2 separate regions of the Homo sapiens genome follow, and region 1 is linked to region 2. The links come from fine-mapping of genetic effects on gene expression. A gene starts in region 2. The other region holds a variant in brackets. All regions are shown on one strand. Distances are between the middles of the regions.

The links. PIP is the estimated chance that this variant, and not a neighbour inherited with it, causes the effect. A credible set is the group of variants that fine-mapping cannot tell apart.
Region 1: its variant is the best candidate, but not a certain one, in a credible set for the expression of CALHM2 in CD8 T cells (CEDAR, PIP 0.58).

The regions. Positions count from the first base shown.
Region 1 is chr10:103,985,631-103,988,543 of GRCh38, reverse strand. The region is part of intron 1 of SLK (STE20 like kinase); the gene reads right to left. Among named protein-coding and RNA genes, the nearest start is that of SLK, 20 kb to the right of the region's middle. The variant A/GA (reference allele first, on the strand shown) is at 1,853.
Region 2 is chr10:103,451,036-103,453,896 of GRCh38, reverse strand. It overlaps CALHM2 (calcium homeostasis modulator family member 2), which reads left to right and starts at 1,527. Exons shown (of 4, transcript NM_015916.5): 1 at 1,527-1,741; 2 at 2,612-2,814. It overlaps CALHM1 (calcium homeostasis modulator 1), which reads left to right. Exons shown (of 2, transcript NM_001001412.4): 2 at 1-657. It overlaps LOC124902494 (a long non-coding RNA gene), which reads right to left and starts at 1,454. Exons shown (of 2, transcript XR_007062275.1): 1 at 661-1,454. RefSeq lists a silencer at 1,126-1,455 and enhancers at 1,294-1,915, 1,916-2,536, 2,485-2,854.

The DNA.
Region 1 (2,913 bases), 530 kb before region 2:
ATTTATGCCGGAGGTTGCAAATTTTTGTGTGTGAAATTAACCCATTTATGCTAGAGGTTGCAAATTTTTTTTGTGAAAAATCAGACCTTGGCAATTACCTTGGGCAGTAGGATATAAATAACCCCCACAAGCTTAGCGTTCCGTTAATGGAACACTAGGCATAATCATTACCCGTGAAGGGTGGCAGAATACACCACTTCAAACATGCCACTCTGACATAAGGATCACTTTGAGTTTGAAAGGCACTTGAAAAATAGCAGATGCAAGAAGGGCATTCTAATCTTCCACCTTTTCTTCCTGAAACTAGGAGATGAAAATGTTCCTGTAAAAGACGTCTTCTCTATCCCAGGAGAAAAGAAACATTCTTTGATAGGGAGTCACAGTCAAGAGAATTGTGTACAAACAGACCTTGTTAAATTAAACATCTTCCTTTAGCCTCCCCATATAACATATCTACTTTTCTACAATCGCCTCTCTTCTTTCAACCTAACACAAAAGCATGTAGGTTTTGCCATTTCTCTATGACTTCATTTTCTTTTGAGGGCTCCCATGTCACATAAAACTTATATTAAATGTCTATGCTTTTCTCCTCTACTCTATCTTGTGTCAGTTTAATTCTCGGGCCCAGCAGGGACGCTAAGAGGGTGGAGGCAAAGTTTTGCCTCCTCTATACCCTTTCCAGTCTCCCCATATTTCTATCATTTGGTCATTTTTCCTTGTTCTTAGTACTTTAACTTTCTCGTTTTCCTTCTTTGGTTAACTTCTCACCATCATTTATTATAAATGAAAGGTTTCCAAATATGTAGTAGATACTAGGATCATTTTTAACGTTAGGAATCAGATCTTAAAATGCTAACTAGGTTGTTTTTATAAGACATTTCACTATGATGTATATTAACATCACTTCAGCAAAACTCCACTTATTACATTAAAAACAGATACTAAATTTTTTAAAGTTAATAAATGTTTCAATAAATAAATGTCTAAATCTCACTTTTAAGAATTTATCAGAAGGAGATAATTTCATAAAATAAAATTCATGCACATACAAAAATACTCATCAAAGCACCATTTGCAATAGTGAAAAAGTGAATCAGCCTAAATGTCACTTAACAGGAACCTGCTTAAATCATGCAGTACAGTTCTACAATGAAAAATGACGCAGCCACTAAAATTAATTGACTGATGTCCTGGAGATTTTAAAGATGTATCTTTTATACTTGTGAATGGGCTGGCATGAAGGAAGAAAAATAACTCACACTAGATAACCTCTAAAATTCCTCACAGTAACAAATTCTGTCATATATTGATTATACCAACAATGATATCATTTGGTTTAATATAAATAATAAAAGTTACATTAAAAGAATAGTGCCTCAAATTATTGCTTGAAAATAACATGATTACTCATCAGGATCTAGTTCTAAAAAACTTTAAAAAAACAAAACTGAAATAAATATTTACAAGTGTGTGACACTATTCTCTACACTAATATAACTGGGACATAAAGTATTTTTAAAAAAGAGCTTATCTACCTAATATCTAAAGGCATAAAAACTCTTCACATAGGCCAGGCGTGGTGGCTCATGCCTGTAATCCCAGCACTTTGGGAGGCCAAGGCGGGCGGATCACAAGGTCAGGAGTTCAAGACCAGCCTGGCCAACATGGTGAAACCCCATTCCTACTAAAAATACAAAATTAACCAGGCATGGTGGCGGATGCCTGTAATCCCAACTACTTGGGAGCCTGAGGCAGCAGAATTGCTTGAACCCAGGAGATAGAGGTTGCAGTGAGCCGAGATCGTGCCATTGCACTCCAGCCTGGGCAACAGACCAAGACTCTGTCTCAGGGA[A/GA]AAAAAAAAAAAAAAAAAAAAAACTCTTCACATAAAGGCTTAATGAAATAACTAAACCCGGGGTTCCCCAACCACAGGGCCACAAACCAGTACCAGTCCACGGCCTGTTAGGAACCAGGCCGCATAGCAGGAGATGAGCAGCAGGCAAGTAAGCAAAGCTTCATCTGTATTCAGAGCCACTCCCCATTGCTCACAATACCACCTGAGCTCTGTCTCCTGTCAGATGAGCAGCAGCATTAGCTTCTCAGAGGAGCATGAACTCTATCGTGAACTGTGAACCCTATTGTGAACTGCGTATGTGAGGGATCTAGGTTGTGTGCTCCTTATGAGAATCTAACGCCTGATGATCTGTCACTGTCTCCCATCAGCCCAAGATGGGAACATTTAGTTGCAGGAAAACAAGCTCAGAGCTCCCACTAATTCTATATTATGGTGAGTTGTGTAATTATTTCATTATATATTACAATGTAGTAATAATACAAACAAAGTATACAATAAACATAACACACTTGAATTATCCCCAAAACATCCCCGCATCCAGTCTGTGGAAAAGTTGTCTTCCATGAAACCAGTCCCTGGTGCCAAAGAGGATGGGCACTACTGAACTAAACAAATGTTAAAAACAAAAATGGAATAACAAATCCCAATCTTAATTTAAAAATATAACTTCTGTTGATAAAAAGATTTCAAATATCAGTCATGATCACCTAAAATCACTGTTTTTATTTTCATGAATCATCAGTAGAGCTTGGCCACATTACATAAACAAATGAGGGATACTGGGAAACATAAGTTGTCTGAAAGTTCCATACTGGTTTCATATTCTAAAAAAATTACACCCTCATATTACTCTTGTTTGAACAGAAGGTATTCCCTGGGTGGTGAGTACAGGAATAATTTTTAAATCTTCATTTATTTTCTTTCTATATTTTTACATTTTCTAACATTATATAGTATTTCATAGTGAAGAATATATTTTAATAAAATTTTTAGCTGGAAACTGAAAGACCAGCACAGAAAACAGAGATGATTTCAGTCCCACAGAGGTGTTAGTCAATCAA
Region 2 (2,861 bases):
TTTCCCTCCTCTTAATTATTTGGGAGGAGTTGCTCAGATCTTTGTGGGCCAAGGTGGGCTGGGAGGGCTCTTCCAGGAGGTAGGAGTTGGTATGGGCCCTGAAGTCAGGGAGGATTAGGATGAGCAAAAAACAAGGTGTATGTTGGTGGGTGGCAGCACTTCCAGTGGGAAGAGAAGGCCCGGAGGTATCAGGAGGTACAAATGTGATGAAGAGCAAAGCTTTGGGTCAGGCACACCTGAGTTCAAATACCAGCACTGCAGGACTTGTGGCCAGTCACCCAGCCACTCTAAGCCTCAGTGTGTCTGTCTATAAAATGGATATTAGAAGACCTGCTTGGCCAGGCGGAGTGGCTCATGCCTGTAATCCCAGCACTTGGGAGGCCAAGGAGGGAGGATCACTTGAGCCTGGGAGTTGGAGACCAGCCTGGGCAACATAGCAAGACTCTGTCTCTGTAAAGTAATAATAATAATAAGAAGAAGAAGAAGAATAAAGAGAAGATTTATAATTTTTTTAAAATGAAAAAATTATTTTTTAAAAAAGACCTGATTTTCAGGATTGTGGTAAGGATAGAGGAAGATAACTTTTAGGGAAGGATCTGGGACTGTGTTTAGCACATGCTGGGATCTGAAACAAACAAATAAACAAGCAGAACTTGGTACCTTTTCTTTCCTTCGTACATATGGTCAAGCCCAGCTCAGGGAGGCCAGCGGGTCACTCGGCAGCTCCACCATGACGGAACCACGAGCACTGCAGAGCTGACAGATGTCGGGGGTCCTCTCCCTCCATGCTAAGGGTCATCTAGCCTGTCCGTAGACTCTCCTGTGCAGCATTCCTGACCCGTGACGCTTCAGCCCGCATCTTGACCACTTTTAGATACAGGCTGGGCAGCTCTGATTATTACACAGGGCTTCCTTCAGAAACCTGCCTCCTTGTAACTTTCACCCACCAGTTGGAGCTCTGCCTGCAGGACCCGGAGAATCCCTAGGCTCCTGAATTCAATCCTCAGCCCTCCAGGGATCCGAAGCAGGTCCCGGGGAGTTAGCTGACTATAGGTCAAAGAGTCAGCATTGGGGATGGTTTGTCCAGTCAATGGACAACTCTGAGGGAGAAGGGCCAGTAGAGGGTGGGGCCCTGGCCCTGAGCATCCTGCAGGGCTCAGCGCGGGCCTGACGACACCCTCCCTTGACCCTCGCGGGGTCTCCTTTGGTAGCTTCTGCCCAGCGGGGGTCAAGTACGTGGGGTGCTCTTGAAACTGTCATGGGGGGCAGGTCTGGGTCAGATCTCCCCAATGCCTCCACATCCCCACGTGGCCCTCCCGACTGGTCCCATTGGTGTGGAGCATGGCCCGGTCCGGGTCTGGGCCGAGGGCGGAGGGCCAGCACGGCCCAGGGACGGCGAGCAGCGGGTCGGTGGGACGCGCAGCAGCTGCAGAACAGGCATCTCAACTTCCTCTCGGCTCCTCTCCTCTCGCGCCGCCCTCGGGGCCCGCCCTCCTCTGCCTGGTGGCGCCGGGAGGCTGTTTTTCCACTCACTGGCGCGCAGACTCCATCCCACTGTTTTCTTCTCTCTTTTCTGGAGTTAGATTAGTCTGAAGCCGCCACCAGCCCCAGGCCCCCGTGCAGAAGAAAAGCGGGAGGGAACGGCGGAGGCCGCCGCTGCCCTGCACCGCCCTCCTGGAGGCCACTTGGAGAGTCCGGCCCCGAGGAGGCCATGGCCACAAGTGCCCACAGCTGGCCCCAGGTAAGGAAGGGGCCCTCCCTGGGGTGTGCCAGGTGTCAGCGGAGCATGGTGGGGCCTGTCCCACGCTGCCCAGAGGGAGAGAGGCCCCTAGCTGAGGTTCCCTCCACCCGGTTGAACAGGGAGCAGTCCTGCCCCTCCCCGAGCCGCCAGTCTCCTGTCGTCACTGATGTTGGAGGAGGTCCCACTGGGGGTCTGGATGTGACCCATCCTTGGCCTGGGGGCAGTGGTCTCAGAAGATGGCCTGGCCCATCCTCTGCTCACCACCCACCCTGTGCAGGTATCTTGTACCCCACTTTGAGCCAGTTTATGAACCCAGGGCCTCCACAGGGAGCTAATTAGGAGCCTAGAAGCCAAGAAGGGAAAAGGATGGGGCAAAGGGGGCTGACTTTAACCCATTCTTCCCCAGCAGTGATGCAAACTGCCTTTCCCAGGAAGTTAGGCTGGAAGCTCCAGGCTGTGAAGTGGGGGAAGAATCAGACTCCTCCTCCTCCTCCTCCTCCTCCTCCTCCTCCTGTTGTTCCTCCTGGTCCTCCTCCTCCAGCTTCTCCTTTTCTTGGAGTCTGCATGGCCACATGGCTCTGCCTGAGCCCATCTGGCAGCCTTCCTTGGCAGGGACAGAAGGGGTGATCTAGAAGGGGTGATCCCTCCATGAAGCATGGAAGGGAACAGGGCTAGGTCTGTGTTTGGCGCTCACCCCATCCCTCCACTCCCTGGCTTCCTCTGGCCTGGGGAGTTTTGTTTTTCACCCTCCAGAGGGGGAGGACATGGGGCCACACCCTGGCCTGTCTCTCAGGCTTGTGTGGGTGGAGGCTGGGAAGGGAGTTGGGCTAAACTTCGCTGTTGCCCGAGGCCATGGCCACTTCCCGGCAGGTTGCCAGCGTCGCTACAGCCCAGACCAAGGCAGAATAATCTCCGGATGAGCTGGTGGCACCGCTGAGCCTTTGGTCTCACCAGGGCTTCCTGTTGCTGGCAGGCGGGGTGGAGCGGAGCTGCTGGGAGGCTGCTGGATAGGAGAGGGGTCACGGCTGCGGAAGAGGAGGTTCTTCGGGACACCCGTGGATGGACACGGCAAGGTCAGTAGGAGACAGAAAAAAAGAGGGTTCACTTAGTGCAGAATCAC